2 separate regions of the Homo sapiens genome follow, and region 2 is linked to region 1. The links come from fine-mapping of genetic effects on gene expression. A gene starts in region 1. The other region holds a variant in brackets. All regions are shown on one strand. Distances are from middle to middle.

Evidence for each region.
Region 2: its variant is fine-mapped to the expression of SIRPA in subcutaneous fat (GTEx, PIP above 0.99). The same link has a PIP of 0.9 or more in tibial nerve.

What each region holds. Positions count from the first base shown.
Region 1 is chr20:1,892,363-1,902,783 of GRCh38, reverse strand. It overlaps SIRPA (signal regulatory protein alpha), which reads right to left and starts at 7,377. Exons shown (of 8, transcript NM_001040023.2): 1 at 7,258-7,377. The coding sequence starts at 7,336. It overlaps LOC102724545 (a long non-coding RNA gene), which reads left to right and starts at 8,534. Exons shown (of 4, transcript NR_186374.1): 1 at 8,534-8,665. RefSeq lists enhancers at 426-925, 2,163-2,212, 2,022-2,591, 6,217-6,732 and silencers at 8,024-8,143, 8,154-8,413.
Region 2 is chr20:1,804,911-1,817,752 of GRCh38, reverse strand. No RefSeq gene overlaps it. Among named protein-coding and RNA genes, the nearest start is that of SIRPA, 84 kb to the left of the region's middle. RefSeq lists a silencer at 1,136-1,430. The variant A/C (reference allele first, on the strand shown) is at 6,479.

The sequences.
Region 1 (10,421 bases):
CACCTCAGCCTCCCAAAGTGCTGGGATTATAGGCGTGAGCCACCGCACCTGGCCTTAATTGTACATTTTCTTGAGGCCTCTGCTCCTTAGAGCGGCCCTCCCTCTGTCCTGACTAACCTTCTCCCTTCCCTCCTCCTGCTTTTCTCCCCAGCTACCTGGCATCATTTGTTTACTTGGGTGTGTTTTTCTCTTCCTCACTAGAATGTCTGCTGCACGAGAGCAGGTGTTTTTGTCTGTCTTGTTCACATTTGTATCCTCCAAGCACCTAGAGCCATCCCTGGCACATAGTAGGTGCTCAAAAATATTTGTTGAATGAATATTTACAATTAAAATGACCCTAATAATGACTGCAAAGTGGTTAAGGGTAAAGTGAGGAGTGGAGCCTGGCTTTACCTCTCACTGGCTGTGTGGCCTAAGGATGAGCCCCACTTGGCCTTGGGAAGCCTCAGTTGCCTTATCTGTAAAGTGGGGATGAAGGGCCATACTGTTTGGCTCGTGGTGAGGGTCAGGTAACAGCTCACATGAAGGGATGTGGAGAGAGTATCGGTGGGTGAAATGATACCCCATGTTTAGCACTTGCTTTATATACTCCCCGATTCTCCTCTCCCTAGCAAAAATAGGGGCAGGGGACAAGCATGGTATAGAGTTGATCAGTGTCAAAGCTGAGGCTCATTACATCATTCCTTCTCATTTTGCATATGTTTGAAATTTTCCAAAATAAAAAGATAAGGAAGAGCTAACACATGTTCAAGGCTCAGCCTGTGCCGAGCACATCGTGTACCTAGTATTTCCTTCCACCACGGGCTTCCATTTCTGGAGAACACCGACGGTCGGCCTGAAGAATGGAGCTGTAGAAACGGCGCTGGTATCACCGCCCACCTGCTCCAGCCGTCCCTCCTGGCTGGGAGGCCCATCGCTCACTCCCGGCTTCCAATTTCCCTCCTGATCCGAGCACCTGATCTCCTTGGGCTCTTGGCGCTAATCTGCAGCCATCTAACACCCTGCGCCCCCGAACGAATGTGCCAGGAAATCTTACAGACACAAAGAACCAATTCTGCAGCATTTCCGACTTCCACCTCAGCTGTTTTGCATCTCTCTGGACTGAGGGCCTGGCAAGACACCTGGCAGGGAAAATCCATCTCGTGGAGGGCTTCATCAGAATACCCATCCCAGGAACACCAGCAGTTAACAGGAAAGCAGTTTCAGCTGTGAAAATAGATGCTTCCTTCTCTAGTATGGGGACAGGGACACACCTTGGGGACACACACTGCCCCCACCTCATAGGAAGGTGCACTGATAGAAATACGAGAGGAGGCCGGGTGCAGTGGCTCACGCCTGTAATCCCAGCACTTTGGGAGGCCGAGGCGGGAGGATCACCTGAGGTCAGGAGTTTGAGACCAGCCTGATCAATATGGTGAAACCCAGTCTCTACTAAAAACACAAAAATTAGCTGGGCGTGACGGTGTGCGCCTGTAGTCCTAGCTACTGGGGAGGCTGAGATAGGAGAATTGCTTGGACCCAGGAGGCAGAGGCTGCAGTGAGCCGAGGTCGCACCACTGCACTCCAGCCTGGGCGACAGAGCAAGACTCCGTCTCAAAAAAAAAAAAAAAAAAAAAAAAAGAAAGAAAGAAAGGAAGAAAAAACAAAAACAAAAATGAGAGGAGCACTAAGGGAGCAGGGTGCCAGCACAACTGGGCCTCAGTTTCCCTACCTGTCAAGCAAGCCTCAGTGACGGCTAAGGAATGGCACAACAGTTAACCACATAGGCTCTGTGATTAGGCCGACAGTGGTTATCCACATCTGGCGCTTACGGTGTGGCCTTGGGCAAGCTGCTTCACCATTCAGAGCCTCAGTTTCCTCACAGATCCAACGGGTCCGAAGATAACGACGTGCATCGCCAGGTGGCTGTGAGTACCACCAGGGTCACACACACCAAGTGCTGAGCCCAGGAAGCAGAGAACCCAGATGGTTCCTATTAGTATTACTTTAGTGTTTTCCCGGGGAATTCGGGATCCTGTCAGATTTCTGGCTGAAACAGTGGAAAGTTCCAGCACAGCCCAGTTTTTAAAAGCCTTGGCCTGGACCACAGGAGGCTTGGCGTTCCAGCCGGGCCTTGCCATGGATCTCCCGCGTGGGCCCGGCCAGTTTTTTTCTCTCTGTTCTTCTGGCCGCACCATAAGGCACTGGATGAAAGCACAGAGGGCTCTCTCAGGCCCCCTACTGCTTTGCAGGTCCGGGAATCCACAACTGCAGACCTGTGGATCCAGATAGAGACACCTAGAGGCAGGCTGTGCCCACAGCACTCAGTCCCTAGTAACAGGCAATTAAATCACTCTAGCCTGGGTTTCTACTCAACTTGTCCATCCCCCAACAGCATAAAAGCTACAAGGACAGCTGGGTGGTGCGGTGGCTCAGCCTGTAATCCCAGCACTTTGGGAGGTGGATCACCTGGGGTCAGGAGTTCGAGACCAGCCTGACCAACACGGAGAAACCTTGTCTCTACTAAAAATACAAAATCAGCCAGGCATGGTGGCGCATCCCTGTAATCCCAGCTACTCGGGAGGCTGAGGCAGGAGAATCGCTTGAACCCAGGAGGCGGAGGTTGCGTTGAGCCGAGATCACGCCATTGCACTCCAGCCTGGGCAACAAGAGTGAAACTCCATCTCAAAAAAAAAAAAAAGAAAAAAAAAAAGCTACAAGGAAAATATCAAGCTGAAGGACATTTGTTCACTGAACAGCCTTTGCTGTTTTTTAAGTACCCCCTATGTGTAAGCAACTGTGTTAGATGTTTTATGAAAATCCGTCCCAATTGTTAAAAAAGAGGAATCAAACCAGAATAAAGCCATGCTAATTACAACACTGGTTAATATGTATTGAGTGCTTACTACATACAAGGCATGGCTTCCAGCATTATACACGCATTAATTAACTTAATCCTTGCAATAGAGTGGTTAATACCATTCCTCTTTTACAGATGAGCAAAATGAGACACAGATTCCTGCAAATTGTCCAAGTCAGTAGCAGGGCTCAGATCAACACCCAGGGGTCTTAGCACCATCTTAGCGCTAGGCCAGGGTGTGTGTCTGCGTGGAGAGGCTCCTCTGACCTCTCCCCAGGAGGCACATTAAATTGAACCTCGGAGGATGAGTAGGATTCAGACACAGGAAGACAAGGAGGTACAGGGAGGGCATTTCTGATGGCAGGAACAGCACGGGCCAAGGCACAGAGCTGAGAGTTCAGCTGAGGGCATGGATCTGTAGAAAACCGTTTACCAAACGGAGAGAGGCCACATGCTAACGGGCATACTACAAATCAAATGCCTCTCGTTCATAAGTTCAGGGAACACTGGAGTAAATGTGACCCAGCTCGGGATTCTACATTGCAGGGCTTCTCAGGGTCTTTGGGGTGCTCGTGTGGCTGAGTAGCCAGCAAAGCTCTGGTCTGCAGGGAGGAAGCCTGGTTATCCTGCAGCATCTCAACAGGTCAGCTTGTTGGAAAACATGTGGCTGGAAATCAGGCCTGGCAGGGAGGAAGCCCAGGCCTCACGGCAGCTTTGTGTTTTTTTGTTTTTTTTTTTTAAAGAAAACTTGGACCCACTCAACAGTTTTGAGCTGGGGAGTGACATGATCTGAGTTGTGTTGACAGGCCAGAAATCTGAGCACATTTAAAAAGAGAGAGAGAGGGGGGAAACCTTCCGTCAGTCCAAGACTACAAATAAGAAAATAACCTGTCGCACGGAGCCATTGGAAGCAGCAAGCGAGCGCGTGTGGGATCCGTACAACACTTTTAGACTCCCTTCCTCTCGCACACCCCCTCTCCATCTGTCGCAAAGGGCACCAGGAAGATGCAGGGAGGAATATTCCAGCTCTGGGGGCTCCAGAGCTCAGCAGCCCAGATGGGGGGCTCTCACAGGAGCCACATCACCTCTCATGTGTTGTTACTGGTGAGGACCAAGGGGCTGTCAGTATTTCCACCCTCAGCAGGCTTTCAGAGAAATGCCTGTGACTTCATCAAAACCTTCTGCCCAGAGAAAGAACTCTTCTACAGTCCTCCACCCAAGGCCAGAAAGGGGCCTCTCTCACTCCCTCTCCAGCTTGGACTAAATCATCCTGATTAAGTCATTGAGCTTCTTCCCTAGAAGCCACCCAGCAGGAAGGCCAGCATCCAAAATCCTGGCTCCTCTCTATCACTTATAAGTTAGTTCCCCAGTTTGGGACTCGATTTTCTGCATCTGCAGAATGGGGAGAAGAGCCAATCCATGTCTTGCGGGTGAGACGACGCAGGAGCAGCATCCGGCCTGGAACGCCATTAACTATCTAATGAATGTTGGTTTTCCTCCCTTCTCTCAACACATGGTTCACACCAGCACTGCATAGGTGCTGCATGACTGCAAGTACAGACGTGAATTACCGTGAGTTTCCGAGGGGTTGGTAAAGGCCAGAAAGTACTCAGAGAAAACTATGGCTTTAAAGGAACTTCCAACAGCCTGATGTGTTGAGCCAAAGCACTCCCGCCCCGTTTTCTCTTCTTACGAAAGAGGAAGTGAGATTAACTTTACCATTTAGGAAAGTACAGAGGAGCCCCCAGAGTGCCACCCTCTACCAAACGGTGAGAGGTTCACTGGGGGGCCCCGCTGCTCCCCAGAGCCTGAACTGCAACTTGGCTTGGCCTCCTCCAGGCCAGAGAGAAGAAATGAATGGGAGTTTATCTGAGGTCGGCCTGGGGGGTGACTCAGAGGTCTCAAGGCCTACCTGGGGCCAAGCAGGCATCCTGCGGGTTCAGCGTCAGGCCCTGCTGACACAAAATCAGGTGCCAGGTGTCCCCAGGCCTCAGTCCCTTGCCCTTCTCCCAGCCTCAGAATCTCCCTCAGTGCAGTTGTTTTAGGAAACAGGCCTCACATTGGGTCCAAAAACATAGGTTGGTGACTTCACTGGGATCTTTTTAGAATTTCCCTTTGGCAGCATTTGTGCTAAAAGCAATCTTTAGAAACTTCTTCTCTTGCCTCCCCCACCCAGGATAATTCACATGATTGGCCCCACCCCCCCAAAACAGTGATCATGTGAAGACACAGGAATCATGTGACACCTCCCAGGCTGACAGTTCTGCCTGAGACACTAGTAGTCATTCAATCCAAAGCCGCCTTCCTAAACCTGACATTTTAGTTTCTCACTCGAACAAATCCATTTTCTTAGAAAATTGGACAACTGCCTCCTTGTACCTTCCTACCCTCATATCCTGTCTCTCTACTTCTTTGTTGTAAATTCCATGTCTGGAGCAATAGGGGGAGGGGCCTGAGGCCCCATCCTTCAGCCAAACCAGGTGACTTCCCTGCCCAGGCCCATGGTGTGACCAGGACCCCGAAGAACAGATACTGAAGGATAATGGGAGACTTGAGCTATGATGGTCGCACCTCATCCCTTCCCCACCACCCTCGACCAAGAAATTCATTCTTACCTCCTAAGATTTATTTATTTCAAAGCTAATCTTGGCCCCTCTGCTGCTCCCACTTTTTCAGGCTATTGATGCTGAATGGATTGGAACGGAAGTTTTATGGCCCAATCTTTACCATCTTATAGACTGTTTTTATAGGCAAAAGGGGGAGATGTGCTCACAAGAAAGGTGTTGGTGTTCCCAGCCGGTGCCCCAGGAAAGGCAGGCTGCCCATCGGAGCACTTGCTAATCAGCGTCACTGCTCGTTTGCCAGGGACTGAACCACAGCCTCCTGGTCGGAGAAGGGTCTGGAATAGACATTTAGAAATTAACTCGGGCCCAATTCCCTGCTTCAGGAAAATTAAGCACTTGTGAGTGACACTTGTGCATTTCCAGGCCAGGAAGGATGGCAGGGCAGGAACTCGGACTTTTGCAGGGTACAAATGGCCAGCTCAGGCAGGAAGGAGCAGATAGGAGATGCCACTCACTGGAGAGACGTGAACTGTATCAGTGCTCCCTTCAGCCCAGCAAGGACGCAACTATAACTGAAAAGAACTGGGGGTGGAGGGTGGGGTGGGGTGGGGGGATGCCTATGTGAATTCCTGGGTTTCAGGGGAAACTGCAGGGCAGAGAGAAGCAGCTGTCTACCCCCCATACTTCTCCTTCCACCCACTCTTTGCTAGTTCTCCCTTTCTCCCTGCTATCAGATGGTTACCATCTCTAGTCAAACGCAAAAGGGGGTGTTGGACACTGAGCTCATCTTTACCTCCCTCCTCAAGGGTGGGAGGTACAGAGAGACCCCACTGCCTACAACACAGTTTCAAGACGACAAAAAACAAGATCCCCATTTTTCTCTCCCTCCCAACTCCCTTAATGCCATTTCTCTGCTCCCCCCGCCCCCCACCCGGTGCCCTCCCAGGAGACCCATGGTTTTGCAAAACCCATTTAAGAAGCAAGACTCCTGAATGGTGACCTCACCCTTTGGTGAACATGCACAGTAGCCTTCAGAGCCCGCCTGCCGGCGACAGCCAGGTGTTTGATGTAGGCCAACAGAAAGACATGGTCAGAGCCACAGGTAACATCCCCGCGGAGCACCTGAACTGCAGGGAGCTGCCTGGAAGCTCGGGGAAGGCAGGAGGAAGGGGGAGCTGGGAGCGCCTCAAGGAGCAAGACCACCAGGGAGAGGCTTTGGCAACCACAGGGACAATCCACCGTGTTTTTACATAAGGATCTGTTGCTCGCAGCAGCTCGCTCTGGGGTTACCGCGGCCTCCCGGCTCCCTCTCTCCCAGGCACACACTAACACCGGTTTACTCTGCGCACCAGAGGGAGGGCTCACTCTTCCCTAATTGCAACAGCTTGTCTCTGTTCCATTCCAGGCAGCATCGGGAGGACCTCTGCCCTCACCTCCTCCCCTCACACCCTGAAGTCAAACATGTGGAAAGTCGTATGTCCATGGGGACAGATTCTGGGGAAGCCGGACGGCCCTGCTCTGAAAGCCACTGTCAGTCAGCCTTCCCCATTGGACCGGGCAGGGGCTGAGTGAAGCAACTCGGCTCTTTTGTCTCAGTGCCCAGCACAGTGCACAGAGTCAGAGTCCACAGAGACAAACTCTCATAGAAGAGACTTGGGTTCTACCCTTGGCTGTGTGACCTTGGGCATGTCGCTGGCCCTCTCTGGGCCTCAGTTTCTGCATCTATAACCCTGGTTACAGGCGTCTCTCCCCCTATTACTGCTCGGCATTAGCCGAAGGGGTCCCAGTGCCAGTCTGAGAGGCCTGAGCCCGCAGTTTGGGGAGTGCAGCGGTGGGGAGCGGGGGGGTGCTTACCTGACCAGGCGCAGGACGCGGCGAGCAGCAGGCAGAGCAGCGGCCCGAGGCGGCCGGGGGCCGGGCCGGCGGGCTCCATGGGCCGCGGCTGCGGAGCGAGGAGGGAGAGCGGCCGTGAGTGCGCGCTCGGGCGGGAGCAGGCTGGAGCGGGGAAATGACTAAGGCTCCCCCCCTTCCCCCCTCCCGGCTGGGCCTCCCCCCGACTCCGGAACGGGCGCCTGGAGCGGCCGCCGCCGCCGCCGCGGTTTTTGGAGACCCCCCCTCCCCGCCCCCCAGGAGAAATGGAGAGACGGAGACTGGGAGAGACCCCAAGCGCGCGAGAAATAAAGCCAGGGGCGGCCAGAGAGAGGCGGCAGGAGAGAGAAACAGACCCAAGGGAGCCAGGCAGAGAGCCAGAGACACGGAGAGGCGAGAGGGGGAGAAAGAGGGGGAGAGCGAGGAGCGAGGAGCGAGGCGGCGCGCAGACCGACAGACCGCGCGGGAGAGAGGACCGCGCGAGCAGGGGCGAGGGGCAGCACGGCCGAGCCCGGCCGCGCGGAGCCGCCCCCGCCGCTGCCCACCTGCCCCGCCCGGGCTCCACACGGCGCGGGCGGCTGGGCTCGCTCCCGGCCCGCAGTCCCGGCCGCTGCCCCCGCCCTCCCGGCAGCCCGACCCCCTCCCTCCTTCCCTTTCCCCTCCTCCCGTCTTCCCGCCGCCCGGGGAGGCTTCGGGGCTCCGGCCCCGCCGGCACCTTCTCTGCGAGCGAGCGCCCGCCTGCGCGCCCCGGGGGAGGGAGCGAGGGCTGCGAGCTGCGCGCCCGGCCGGGGAGGGCAGCGTCCTCCCCCGCGCCGGCGCCCGGGCCCCGGCTGCTGTCCCGGGAAGGCGGCCCCGCGAGCCGCCGCGGCCCGCTGGGGCTCGGGACTAGACGAGCCTCCGGCTCCGACAGCGTGCCCGTTCAGAAGCCCGCGCGGCTGGTCCCCAGCCCCGACCGGTCCCGCTCTGCCCCTCCCCGTCCCTGCCGGGCCCGGACCTGCGCCGCCCGCGAGGGCTGGAAGGCACTGGAAGCGCCGCCGGGGCTGCCCAGAGGCCGGGTCCCCGCTCCACTTTGCGCAAACTTGTTTTTCTAAGGTCAGCGCTGCGAGCTGGCTACATCGTCCTCTTAAGGTGGACCGGGGAAGTTGCGGCCGACCTCCCCTCGCCTCCGGACTCCGGCCGCGCGGCTGCTCCCCGCTTCCCACTGGCGAGAGGCTGGAGGCGGCGAAGGAGTCGGGGCGCGGGGGCGCGGGGGGCGGGGGGGCGTCTGCCTTTTAACCCTCCCCAGGAGGTCGTGCCTCTGAGCCCCAAAGCTGAAGGCCCCTCTTGGGGGTGGGTGCGGGCCGGAGGGGCCCGATCCTTTCAGAGCCGGGCCGAGGTGAAGGAAAAGAAGGAAGTAAGTGAACGCAGGGGGAAGGGGAGAGGAAGAAGAGATGATGGTACAAAAATAGCGTGTGTGTAGGAAGGACTTCGGTGCCGCCTGGAAAAGAGGCGCGGGGAGGAGAGGGAGCGAGAAGGGGGCTGTGGCGCGCAACCAGAGGGGAAGGGTCGGGGCCTTCCCAGGGAGGTGGAGGCCCCCTGGCCAGGTGTCTCGGTGGTGGAGGGCGGACTGGGCGGGTGGGAGGCCCAGGCCGGGGCGTGTGTGGGAGAGCGGGGCCCTGAAGGCCTGGGTTCCGGGAGAAGGACAAGCCCTGAGGAAGATGAGGGGAAGGGGAGCCGGGGCCAGAGGCCTGGAGTTGGAGAGGACAGAACCCCGGTTTTCCCGGAGGGAACGCCGTTCCTGTAGTAGCCAGGTCAGTGATGGGGAGTGCCAGTGTCGTGGTCACCTGGCAGAAGGCTCCGCACTGTGGGAGGAACACAAGTTCAAGACCCCGCTGCTAATGGGAGAGAATTTTGGTTCACACAGTGGCGGTTAAGAGGACAGGAATGACACAAGGTGAGAGAAGGCCCAACCCTGTAAATGGACAGAAAGTTGAGGCCCGGAGAGGGAATAGGTTTGCTTAAGGCCACACAGCAAAGCTTGGGGTAGAAACAAGATTTGAATTCCTGATTCCCAGGTTAAAGACCTGTGCAAAGTAACACCACTGCCTCCCCTCCTGCCCCGAGCCTCCTGGTGAAGGCATGGCCCTGCTGTTGTGCAGGGGGGCAGGGAAGGTGCCACACTTGAGAACATGGGCTGAACTCCGTGGGTTCAAATCCCCCGGCTACTGTTATGAGCTGGGTGGACTGGAAAGTGCCTTACCTCTTCTGTGCCTCAGCTTCTTCATCTGAGACGAGGCCAGCGTGAGTCTCAATTGTGAGGATTTGATGAGTTAATATTTGTAAGACATGTTAAAAAGAGCCTAGCACATACCAAGTGCAACATAAGCATTTGATAAATAAGTGAAGTGTTTGACAACAGTCCTTGAGAACCCACAGGGTTCTGGGCAGCATTTGAAGTGCAAGGGAATTTTCATTTCTCTGGGTGTGGGAGAGCACGAGGTCCCTGTCCATGAGGAATTTATATTCTACTAGGGGAGACAGGTAAGTGGACAAGTAGAAATAATTAATGAAGAACGGAAGATTGAACTTAGAGAAGGAGAGGGGTGAGCGTATTTAGATAAGGGGGCCAGTAAGACCTCCCTGAGACATGGGTTGCTGAATCACAAGTAGGGTCAGCAAGGCGAAGATTTGGGGAGAAAGGTGTTCCAGGAAGAGGGCCCAGCACAAGGAGGGGAAGGCCCCAGGTGGCTAGGCCGGAGGAGAGAAAGCGCAGTATGCAGGACTGGGGAGGGTGGGATGGTCTCCAAGACCTGGGTAAAGAGCCTGCGTTTATTCTGCAGTTGGGAGACCCCTAGAGGGTTTTCAGCACGGGAGGGCCATGTCTGATTTATGTGTCTAAAAGGCCAGTCTGCAAGCGGAGGGTGGACTGGAGAGAGAGGAGCGTGGAATTGGGCACCAATGAGAAAGATTGTTCTGGGGTTATCCTGGTATCTGAGGTGGGTGCAGGGAAGGTCTCCAACTCTTCAGGCCACATCGGGTCTAGACCATGAAGGTAACCAGGGAGGCTCCTGGGAAAATCTGTCACCAGACTCCATCTGGGGTGGGAGTGGAGATGGGGGCTGCTGATGAAGTCAGAGAAGAGGCAGCCTCCTGCCCTGGACTTCCAGAAG
Region 2 (12,842 bases), 86 kb after region 1:
TTGTCCAACCTGGAGTGTAGGGTGGACTGTAGTCCTTCTGTGATCTCATAATCCACCAGCAGACCCCTCCTGTGTACCCCTCTGTGTACTCCTGCTGTGTACCTGGAGACCCCCAGGTCTCCAGGGGTCAAACCACACCCCACAGGCACCTTGGAAGAAGAAATCCACAGGAGGAAAAAAAGAAGTAGGAATCTTGGTAGCTGGGAGAGTTCTGAGAGGGCATCTCAGGCAGCTGTGATGGGTTCAAGAGGAAATGGAGGCTTGGGTGCACTTCCCTGGTCTCCACCTCCTTCAAAGAGAACCCAGGGAGGAGGAAAGTGTGACCTTGAGCCTGTCCAGGGCTTCTGCCTGCCTGGCTGACCCAGAGCGGGTTGGATTCCATGCTCTGTGAAGGCCTTTGAGGTCCTAACAGTCAGGGGTTCTCGAAGTCCATGATTGTAAGCAGCCCGACTGGGGCTGGGGGGCGATGGGGAAGGGTGTCCCCTGCTCCCCCACCTCCTTCTGCCAAGGCTGCAGAGGGAACAGAGGCCGTTGCCTTCTGAAGGATTTGTCACAAAGCGCGGTGGTCGGTTACCGGTTACCACATAAGCCAAGGCCTTGATCTGCTGTGTTTGAGGAAACCCTTTGTTCCTTTCAAGTCTCTATTCTCTGAGCCAGGGCTAGTGCGGAGACCGAAGCAGTGAGCTTTCTCTTTCTTCCTTTTCTTTTTGGATTTTTAAAAATAACTGGCTTGCGCATTCAGGCGGTGTTCCAGAATTGGGTTCCCAGGCTGTGGTTCAGGGCCAGGGACTCCAGCAGCCCCTTCATCCCAGGAAGGCCTCGGGGGAGGGAGAGCCTAAGGGCTGATGGGGAGGGGAGGGCACACACAGGTGCTTGTGAGAGGCTTGGGCTCAGGAACCAACACTGAGGGGAGACTGAAGATGGGGTTCTAACTCTGGCTATGCACCCCATGCATGCCCAGTGCATCTTCTTCTGGACCTCAGTTTTTTTCAGTGCAGGGTTGGAGGCCAGAGCAGAGATGGCCACTTTTTCCCATGGCTGAGTCTATGCCAGACATTGCTCATCAATTGCCCTTCCCCACGGAGCTTGGATAAGCCCCAAGAAGTCTTTTCAACACCGTGCTCTGGGTATCTACTGCCAATTGCATTTGGCATGCAAAGTGAGACCTGCTTCCTGTCCTGAGAGAAGATCATCTCTGAGGCACCAATATGAAGTGGGGATGCAATAAATATTTTTTGGATGAATGGGCACTGCTTTTTTTAGCCCTTACTTCATGCCAGGCATTGTTCTGAGTACTGTTTAGAACATGCCAGGCATTGTTCTAAACGTTGAACAAAACAAAGTTCCTGACCTCAATCTCACATGTGAGGGAGACAGGCAATAAGCAAATGAACAGAGAAACAGATCAAATGTCAGGTGGTGATCAGAGCCATAAAGAAAAATTAAAACAATAGAGAGTGACAGGCTGTGGGTCGGTAGGGGGGAACGTTGTGGATAAGGTACCCAGAGAAGATCTTCTGGGAAAGAGATATGGAGTAGACAAAGTGACAGTCTCCTCAGAGCCCATCACTCTAGGACTTTGAGTCTAAATTTGTCTGACTTTAAGATTCTAATTTCATTGAGTAAGATTCTAGAATCTCGTGAATCTAGGAACCTATAACCAAAATTATAGATTTTCACTGCTCTCATATTCCATGACAATGATGCTAGAATTCTGTGACTCTGAAATTCTAGGCTTCACTGATGCATCTTTTTGCTTGAACAGACCAGGATTCATTGCCTACCCTCTCCCCACTACCCCTAGGAAATGGAGCTGAAAATAGAAACAGTCAAAACAACAAGCCATTCCAGCTCTAAGTGCCATAGTAAACAAATGGTCCAATGTTGCTCTGATAGTTTAATTGCGGCAGTTCCAGACAAGCCCATTCATGAAGGATCTTTAGTTGATGGAGAGGAGGAGTGAGCACCCAGGGAAGGGATGGCTTGTAGGGCAGGCACTTGGGGGAGGTCTGCGTCACGACCCCAGCTGAGGATGATGCTCTGGGAAGCCTGTTGGGTTTCAGCAGCCAAAGCATTGGTATTTGGATCAGGCCCCTTGGCCTTTAAGGACCACAATGGTGGCTATTTTAACTGGCAAAGTAAAGAAGTGTCTCTTTGAGGATGTGGCATTAGAGCTAGACTGGAAGACTTAAGAAGATACTAGCTTGACAGAAATCCAGGGAAGTGAGTCCCAGGCAAAGGGGAAGAGCAGATTCAAAGGTCCTGAGGTGAGAGAGAGCTTGGCAGGTTCCCCAAGTATTCAGAGCATAGGACAGAGAGGAGATGATATCAGAGGGATAAGCAGGGGCTGTTTCCTATAGGGGTTTGGAGGTCAGGGTTAGGAATATGGAAGCCACTGGAAGGTTTTTAACAGGGGAGTGACATGATATAAATCCATATTCAAAAGATTACTAAGTGCTTTGAGTAGAAGAGACTACTGGGGGCAAGAGTAGAAACTGAAAGACCAGTGAGAGACCCCAGTGTTTCAGTGAGAAATGATGGTTGTTTGGATTTAGATGGTGGCAGTGGGTCCATCTGTTTGTCTACCGCTTTGTTCTTCCCTCCTTTCTTCCATTCTTCTATCTCTTCATCCATCCATTCATCCATCCACCCATCCATCCACCCACCCATCCATCCACCCACCCATCCATCCACCCACCAACCCATCCACCCATTCATCCACCCACCCATCCATCCATGCATGCATCCATCCATCCATCCATCCATCCATCCATCCATCCATCCACCCTCCCATCCACCCACCCACCCATCCATCCATCCATCCATCCACCCACCCACCCATCCATCCATCCATTAACTAAACACTCAGAGCCAGGGGCTGTGCTGGGTGTGTCTATGGGGAGTCAGGTACAATGCTGAGATAACAAGAATGAAATACACATGGTTCCCAGCCTAAGGGGCTTACAAAACAGCAGGGTACACAAAATTGCAATGTAATGTTATGAATGCTCCAGTTAAGGAATGCATGAAGCACCGAGAGAGCTCATGGGAGGTAATTCCCTATGCTCTGTCCTGGAGGAGATACTGATGTTTGAGTTGGGCCTTTCGAAGGACACGGGAGTTGGACAGGCAGCAGAAGAGTGTTCCTGGCAGGGGCACACAGCTTGAGTAAAAAGCAAGGAGGCAGCATGAGTGAGCATGGCCGGTTCTGGAAATGTACAGATGTCTAGGTTGGTTGAATCAACAGATGCGAGTGGGGACGCTGTGGGAGAGGAGTTTGGGTCAACTTGGGAAGACGTGGAGCAGCATATGCCCATGACTGGGCCTGCCCCTTCCGCTCAGCTCTGCCTGCCCCTATCAGAGCTGAATAATTGAATTAAGTACCAGCTCTTAAACAAGATGCAGCTGTTTAGCAGATGTTGCTTCCACCCCAGATGGAGGTGCATCTTGGCGACGGGCACAACATTTCGAAGGCGTCTAATTTGTGAGGCTGTGGAGAGGAAAGAACTTCAAGATGCTGGCATTATTATTTAATAACCATCATTAATTACACACTCCCTCCCTCCAGCACCACTGCATGTCAAACATTCCTGCCGGATTGGGACTGGGGGCACAGAGGCGGGCTGGCAGGTGGGCTTGGGGGTTGGACTTGCTGGTTCTGATTCAGAAAAACAAAAGAAGAAAAGGGAATAAAGTCATCAATCCACAAAGCCTTCAAGAACTTTTATAATAATGGAAAATGACTTCTCTTGCATTTTTCATAAAATGAGTACAAATAATAACTGCTATTGATTGAACCCCCACTCAGAGCCAGGGGCTGTGCTGGGTGTGTCTTAGACATTGCCTCCAATTCCCTAATCCTCCCAACAGCCACGCATGGCCCTACCTCAGGGCCTTTGCCCTTGATGTCTCCTCCGACTGGGAAGGTTCTTCCTTCAGACACCCACATGGCTAACTCCCCTACATCTTTCAAAGCTCCACTTAAATGTCAGCTCCCCAGAGAGGCCTTCCCTGACCACCACTCCCTGAAATAATGTCCTCCACATTCTTGACCTCCTTCCCTTGCTTTTTCTTTCATCACCTGATATACGTATATTTGTTAATTGTCTATTTCTCCCTTTTAGATTTTAAGCTCCCAAGGGCAAGGATTTTTGTTTCATTCACTGTGGCCTCCCCAGCACTCAAAACAATGCTTGACACAGGACAGAGTTCTTTTTTCTTTTTTGAGATGGAGTCTGGCTCACTTGCCCAGGCTGAAGTGCAGTGGCACGATCTTGGCTCACTATAACCTCTGTCTCCTGGGTTCAAGCGATTCTCCTGTCACAGCCTCTGGAATAGCTGGGATTACAAGTGCACGCCACCATGTCCAGCTATTTTTTTTTCTTTTTTGGGGGGGTATTTTTAGTAGAGATGTGATTTCATCATATTGGCCGGGCTGGTATCCAACTCCTGACCTCAGTGACCCGCCTGCATCGGCCTCCTGAAGTGCTGGGATTACAGGCATGAGCCACCGTGCCTGGCCCAGAGTTCTATAAATATTTGTTCAATGGGTGGGTGATTCATCAGTGGGTCTCATTAAAAAATGTGCAGAAGAGTGTTAGGGAGATAAAATCTCTTTCCCAGGCATTACACAGCCAGCAAAGAGCAAGCTGAGATTTGAATTCAGCTCTGTCTAATTCTAAAGCTCTGCTCTTTTCATTAAGGACTTTGTTTTTCTTCTCCAAAGAACTTATTACCACTTACATATTATTATTATTATTTTTGAGACGAAGTCTTGCTCTGTTGCCCAGGCTGGAGTGCAGTGGCATGATCTCGGCTCACTGCAACCTCCGCCTCCCAGGTTCAAGTGATTATCATGCCTCAGCCTCCCGAGTAGCTGGGATTACAGGCATGTGCCACCACGCCCTTGTATTTTTAGTAGAGATGGGGTTTCACCATGTTGGTTAGGCTGGTCTCGAACTCCTGACCTCAGGTGATCCAACACCCCCCCCCCCACCCCTCGGCCTCCCGAAGTGTCAGGATTACAGGCGTGAGCCACCACGCCCAGCCCACTTACTTATTATTTATCTATTCATGTGTTTAATGTCTGTCCTTCCCACTACAATGGCAGCTCCACTGAGGGCAGAGTTCATCTGTTCTGTTCACAGCTGAATCCCCAGCCCCAAAACAGTACCTGGCACCCAGGAAATGCTTTATAAATATACGCTGAATGAAGGAAAGAAGGTCTGGGATATGGGAGGCTGGAGGTGTTCACACCCTTGCTGGGTCTCTGACTGGGTGAGACGGTGGGGAGCTCCAAGATGTTTTCCACTTCCCCAACCCCTCCCACATACAGACTTCTTATTCACTCTTGGAAGCAATGCTGCAAGGGAAGTATTATCCAAACCATTTTACAGATGGGGAAATTGAGGCTCAATCAGAGAAATGATTTGCCTTTCTCAAGGTCACCCAGCTAGTAAGTGTCAGAGCTGGGATTTAAACCTAGGTCTCCAGAGTTCACTTGTCATGCAAAAGGGACCCTTAATGCTTGCTAGCTCTGCCCACCCAAAGGCAATAGCTAGAAGGTCCAGAAGGTCCAGTCACAATCTATGCATTTCCCCATCAAGGTCAGGGGTGTCAGGACCAATGTGAAACTCATGCTTAATTCACAACTCCCAGCTTTGTCCATTTAAATGAAAACTTTCATGTTATTTTAACCAAAATCCCCTGTCGACTTCAATGAAAGCTTTGAATCCATGAGGAAGGTCAGAAAGGGTTTTTTGGAGGTAGCACAGGCGCCCAGTGGAAATCATATTAGCATATTCATTATCATCAGGGCCCTTTGAATGTGTTTTTGAGCTGTTCCCTTCAAGTGACTGGAGACAATGGCTCCTTTCTGTTCACAAATTCCTGGGCTTGAAGTGGGCTGTGGCCAGCTCCTGTGTGCTTCTCTGCACTTTCCAAATGGTCACAGGGAACCCGTGTCGCATAAGGTAACAGGGAGGATGTCATCCACCAGGAGTGCTGGTGGTGAATGAGGCTCTTTGTCTGGGTTTGGAAGAAATATCTCCTCAAGTCACTTAGGCAGCTATGGTGGACCCCAAAGATGGGCTCAGGTAACAAAATATGTTGTTAAACTGTCTTCTAAGGAGGCTGGACCCTATTAACAGGAGATCCCTGAGTGTGGCAGAGTCAGGGCTGGGTCTGGGGTAACAAGGTAGTTGCTCAACTCTAGAAAGTGCCAGGATCACCCAGGGAGCATTTAGCAACCATCAGTGCCCAGCACCACCTCACCAGGCCATCTGGACCCAAATCTTGGCGAGTAGGGGAGTAAACAGGCATCAAAGGTTTGTAAGTGTCCCCAGATGCAGACAGGCAGCTAGTAAGCAGAGCAGAATGGCTCTCTCCTCGAATCAGAGGGGAGGAGAAAAGAGAAGTTGTGGGTGGGGTATGGTGGGGAGGGAGGGCTACAGGAAATCCTCTGGGCATGTGTCGGGAA[A/C]AGAGAACTTCAGGGGAAAAACACTCTTTTTTTTTTTTCTCTCTCTAAAGAAAATTCTCAAACTACAGGAAGTGGAGAGAACAGTACAGTGACCCTACACGCTTGTTACCAGCCTCACCTGTCACCCACATGGAGTCCTTCCCATTTGTGGGGTTTCCAGGTGTGTGCCTGTCCCAGGGAGGCCACGTGCCCCTGCTGCCCCAGAACCTTCCTTCTGTAAAGCCCACGCTGCTCTCCAGTGATTCTGACAGTAGATCCTTGGTGGGAACACAGAGCTCCAGCTCTCAGCCCGGGACAAGCTTTGACAGGAGAGCCAGCTACTGGGACACAAGTCCTTTTGTGTGAAGGGAAAAAAAAAAATAGTTCTAATTAAAAAGAAATCCCCACCTATTTGGACTAATTCCTCCATGACTAGCTTCTCCTTAGTTCTCCTGTTTTCGGACAGGGCCTGAGGCCGATTTCCCCTGAATAGGATCAAAGAAGTGAGGGGACTAGCCTAGGGCCTGGAACACCCAGAGGGTGGCTGCTGGGGGCGTGAGAACTGGGTAGGGGTGCCTCCAGGAAGTCCTCTTATGTGTGCTTCTTTGTTCATTTGACAAGGATTTGCTGAGCACCTACTATGCATCAGACGCTGTGTTCTAGGCAAGGGGGATACACCTGATGGAAGAAGGTCCTTCCCTAGACGTAGCTAACATCCCAGTGTGGGAGATGACACGAAACAGTAAGTAAAATCTACCGCGTGTCAATAGATGGTGTTAAATGCTACAGAGAAAGTTAAAGCAGGGAAGGAGACGGGGGAGGGACTGCTGGAGTGGGTGGTAATTTTTAATGAGGTACCCAGGGAAGGCATCTCTGCAGACCCACACAAGTGAGATAGGGAGCCGTGCTGGAGGGGCACCCCAGGCAGAGGGCACAGCAGATGCAAAGGCCCATGGGTGGGAGTTCTCCTTCCAGGAGTGGTGATCACCTTGAGTGGCTGGAATAGAGGAAGGGCTGGGGAGAGCTCTGGGAGGTGAGGTCAGGGAGGCAGGTCTGTAGGGGAAACTGAGGAGGTCAGACTGTGTGACTTAGGAGGCCTTTGTTTTTCCTCTGAGTGAGAAGGGCAGTGATGGGTGGGTTTTGAGCAAGAGGACTACAAGCTCCAGCCTAGGTTTTAACAGGACATCTCTGGCTGCTGAGTTCAGAACAAGTTGTAGAAGGCAGGCCAGAGGCAAGAGGAGGCTGTTGTGTCACCCCAGGTGACAGACGATAGTGGGTCAGACTAGGGTGATCATGGAGGGCACGGATACGTTTAGAAGGAAGAGCCAATAGAATTTGTGGACTGCAAGAATGTTGGAATATGACTCAGGACAGCCAGGGCTGACTCCAAGGTATTTGACCTAAGCAGCTCGAATTATAGAGTTGGCATTTCCTGATATGAAAATCCTGCAGAAGGGGTGGGTTTTGGAGGCACAATCAGGAGTTCCATTTTGGACAGGTGAGATTTGACATGCCTGTGTAACACGGACGGAGCTGTGGAGTTAGTAGCTGGGCATGAGGCTGGAGTGCAGGGGAGACGCCTGGCCCGGAGTCACCCCAGATGGTGAGTGAGATCACTTAGGATATGATTGTAGATGGTGAGACATGGACTAAGGTTCTGATATAACAGGAACTGGGCCAGGCCATGTCTTCTGGGCCTCGTCACCTGGGATTGATGGAGGGATGTCCTGATCCTACCTCCCTCTCCATTCACCACTTCCAAATCTTAGCATTTACCCTAAAGATAAACGGGAGAGCTGAGCTAGCCTAATTTTGGTTGAAAAGAGCAGAGCCTCTCTCCTAACTTGAGCCATGGGGGTTGTTGTAAAGCTACATGCAGGGACTGGAAGGCAGGAATTTTGACCACACATCACAGAATACAACTTAGCCACTGGAACATCATTCAGGACCCAGTGCTCTGGGACTGAGTCAGTTCATAGTCATCTCAGGAGCAGACGTTTGTCAAATTTCTCCTCCCCCTTGTCTGTCTTGGAAGTTTGGCTTACTCATTGCCCCTGTGCCTTCACATTTGTTTGAATTATGTCATCTTTTAGGGTCTTTCAGCTTGTAGGCATCATCCCAACTCTTTGTGGTCCAATTCAAACTGGCAGCCACCATCACTGCTGATGAGTTTAGTTAATTGGGCTCAGCCCTGCTGGGTGGAGCTTCTGTCCCAGGCTGTATCACAGGCTGCTCAGCCTATATTTTGGCAGTCTTTGGGTCAGGTGGCTCTTCCTGCCCCCACCAGGTGTTGTGGAAGTGTGGAGATATTGGGTAAAGAATTCAAGGTCAATAATAGTAATGTCAACAGTAATAGTAACAGCATGGCTATTGATTAAGGAAGACTGCATCAGACAGACTGGGTTCCGGTTCAAGCCCAGCTTCTACCACTTACTATGACCTTGGGCAGCTCGTTCAGCCTAACTGCATCCCCATCTCTACATCTACAAGTGGGAAATAATAATGTTAACTACATCTTAGCATTGTGGTGAGGAGTATATAAACTAATCAAGAAGACTCTTATGGCATATAATTTAATCAGGGCTCAAAAAACACCAGTCACTCTTACCATGACTATTGGTTGAACAGTTCTTCTGTGCTAAATGAGGTGCTTTAAAGGCGCACATTCTCATTTGATTCCTTATAAAATCCCAATGAGACAGGTTCTTTTTTCAGCCCCAACTTATAGCTGTGAAACTGGAGGCAGAAGTGATATGACTTATCCAAAGGTCCTTCAGCTAGTACGAGATGAAGCTGGGACACTCAAACACAGGTTTATCTGGTTTCAGAACCGGTGGTCTCACTGTGTCCCCCCAGCGGGGCATATAGAATATGTAAATGCTCACCCTGGGCCACTTCCTCTGCAAGACTGTGGGCAGGAGCCCCCACAAGAAGGTGCAGGGCACTCCCTGATCCTCCACAACCCCACTCCCTACCCCAGATCTTTCTGCCTTCCGAGGAGATAATGCCTAGTCTTCTAAATACTACTCAGATCCAGTGGGATTGTGCCCCTCGCCTGCTCTGCCCTGCAAAGGCCATTCCTATTCCTTGTCCTGTGTGGTCCTCAACATTTCAATTACTTAGCAAAGCAGGGATTATTTCCTCCCATTTGACAGATGCAGAAACTGAAATTCACCGAAAGGATGGAACCGTATTCTCCCCAGTCCTTACAAGGAGCATTTGGAGAAAGGCAAAACTGAACTTGAGGGGAACAGGGAGTCACTGCATGTCCTCGAACAGGGGTGAGGCAAAGGCAAGAAAGACCGGGGTCAGAACAGAGAAGCTTGGAGCTGGAGCAGAAAGGTGCCTCATTTAACTGGGCCTGTGCCCTGCTTAGCAATGTAGCCAGTTCTGCAAAGTCTCCTCCAGACTTGGGGTTCAGTCAGGGTGTAAAGGAAATAGAATGATATGAATTCCTGGTGCCAGTTTAATTTCATGAAATATGCCAGCATGGCCCTGGGGCTTGATGCAGTCTTCCCTACTGAAGGATCACAGCGGGAAGGGAGCATCTGCAGGCTCTTGGCTCACATTTGTCACCTGTAACCTTCACACACCAGGCACAAGTCTTGCCCATGCTCCGGGGCTGTCATCCATAAACAGTCCCTGAGCTTCACATGTGTGGGTTTCACAGCACAGCTCTGGAATCTGACAGTCGAGGGTTTGAATCTCAGCCTTGCACCTACTCTCTGTGTGGCCCGGAGCAAGTCATTTAACCTCTCTGGGTTTCTGCTTCCTCGTCTGTGATCCTCACTCAGTGGGATACTGCGGAGATCAAGTGAGATATGTTCATTTAGTGCTTGGCACAGTGCCTGGTGTGTGGCAAACCCCATTACTGTTTCACACAACACAAAATAATTCGGACACTTGCTGTTGGCATAGGAATGATTAAAAGATATACGGTATAGGAACATAACAAATAATAAAAAAGGAAAGATTATTTTGATGACAGAGTGGAAGATGTGTTAGGAAGGAGAAGACTGGTATAGAAACATCTCTGCTAGGAACAGTGTTTGGCTGTTGGTAGCAAAAACAACAACAACAACAACAAAACACCTAACCATGGAATAGATTTTAGTTGGTCCTCAATACCCATGCTCCCCTTCTTCCTTAGTCAACAAAATCCCTAATTTTCATCAGAATACATGGCTTGCCTCCTGCAATAAAGATTACAGTTTCCAGTTTCCCTTCCATATCCTAGGTATGCCCATGTAAGTTCTGGCCAATGGAAAATGTTGTGTGTGACTTCCAGAAAATGTCTTAAAAGGGAAGGTAAACACCTTCCTCCACCAGTCCTCCACACTTTCTGGAATTTGAGACATGATGACTACATCTCAAGCAGCTCGGACCATGTGATAATTTAAAGATGGCTGTGGATTCTTTGATCCTCCTCCCTTTGAGAGGAGTCAATTTCCCCTGTACTTAAATCTGGGCTGACCTGTGACTTCTTTGACCAATAGAGTATGGTGGAAATGATGTCACGCCCACTCCAGGCCTAACCTCTAGGAGGACTGGCAGTTTCTGCTATGGCCTCTGGGAGCCATGAGCTGCCATGAAAAAGGTCAAACTACTCTGCTGGAGACACCCACCTGGAGAAGCCCTGGGATTCCATGGAGAGGCAGACGGACCCAGCTGAGCTCAGTGTTCCAGCCATCCCCACGAAAGCACCAGGAACCTGAGTGAAACCATCTCGATCCTCCAGCATAGCACAATCAGCAGCTGAAGATCACTGAGTGACTCTAGTCGGCGCTCCATGGATCACTGAAGGATCACCCAGCTGAGCCCTGCGCAAATTTCTGACTCACAAAACTGTAGACGATACAATGGTTGTTGTTTGGGGGCAGTTTGTTATGCTGTAGCAATAAATAGCCAGAAGAGACCAAGAGGCAGAAGTTGTTTGCTGAAAATAATGCAAAAATTATACCAGCCCTTGCCCAGCTACCTCCGGATTTCTTGCTACATGAAAAAAAAAAAAAAAATCCCTATTTGTTTAAGCCTCGTTGACACCTTGGGCTATTGCTCAGTCCTCAGTTTTCCATTTGTTAAATGGAGCATTAGCTCCTGTCTTACTACTTCCCAAAGGTGCCTGAGAGGGTAGAGTAAGAATGAAGAAGAGAAGGCCTTTTTCATGTAATATAAACAGTGCTTATGTTCCCAAAGATCAGCGAGTGACATGCTCAAACAGTTATAATATATTTAATGTGGTCATAATGGGAGTGAACTTGTCATGAACCAATTGCAATGGATTTTGGAATCAGACACGTTAGGGCTTGAGGCTCTCAGCTCTGCTAGACAAACTTCTAACTTGACAAATAGGCCAGTCATTAAATCTCTCCAAGCCTTAGTTCCCTCATCAATAAAGCACAGACGATGTGATTTCCCTCCGTTGAGTCTGTGTGAGGATTAAATTAAATGAGATTCATCCATCTATTTGATAAATATTGAATATCTCCTAGGGTCTAGGCCAAACACACTCTTGATATTGGTGGAGGCTGGTGTCCACTCACCCTTAAATCTAAATATTTAAAAATTATAAATCAGACCAATACCTTCTCTTAAATGTTCTATCCTTCTCCTCAGTAAGTATAACTTCTCAGCAGCCTGAAAGGCCAGGATTGATTTGGATTTCTTAGATACTCGCACTGAAATGTGGCGGTGCTGGGGAGAGCCAGCCCCATTCCCTGGTCGCTCATTTCCCAGCCTATAAACTGCCACCTTCCCTTCTCATCCCCAGCTCCATCCTGTACCGTGCACACCTCACCTGCATGTGTGTAGACATCCCAGGCTGCAGGTCCAATCTCCATCCACACCCTATCCTCTGCAGTGCCCCTTGGCTACACCCTGGGCTTAGTGTTCTGCCTCCAGACAATAGACCAGGAAGAGGCCTGGCAGCAGGCTTGGGACTTTTAGGTAGGGAGCTCAGGAATCCTAGGAATCTGTAGTATTCTAGACAAGGAGCAAAGACTTGGATGGGTATATCCCCTTGGCACTGCAGACTCTCTAGCCTGTGGGGATGTACGCAGCTGGAGGCTGGCCAGGGCAGAGCCCCGCTTGCCTGGGTCCAAGGATGGGCTGGTCAGCCTGTGCTAGGTGCTGCAGGTACATGAGTAGATGAAGCAGATACCACCCCTGCTTCTCCTACTCAAAGGTGAAGACACATCCCTGAAGTCAGGGCCTCAGTCTTAGCCCTATCTATAAGATGAGGGCTTACCTGATCTGACATCAGGTAATGTTGGAGACTTGGTGTACGTCCTCAGGAATGTCCTAGAAGCCAGGAGGTCAGATGAGGAGGGGCAAGCTTAAGGCCTAAGCAATCAACTTCCTCCTTGAACCTAAGGCTGGCAAGGCA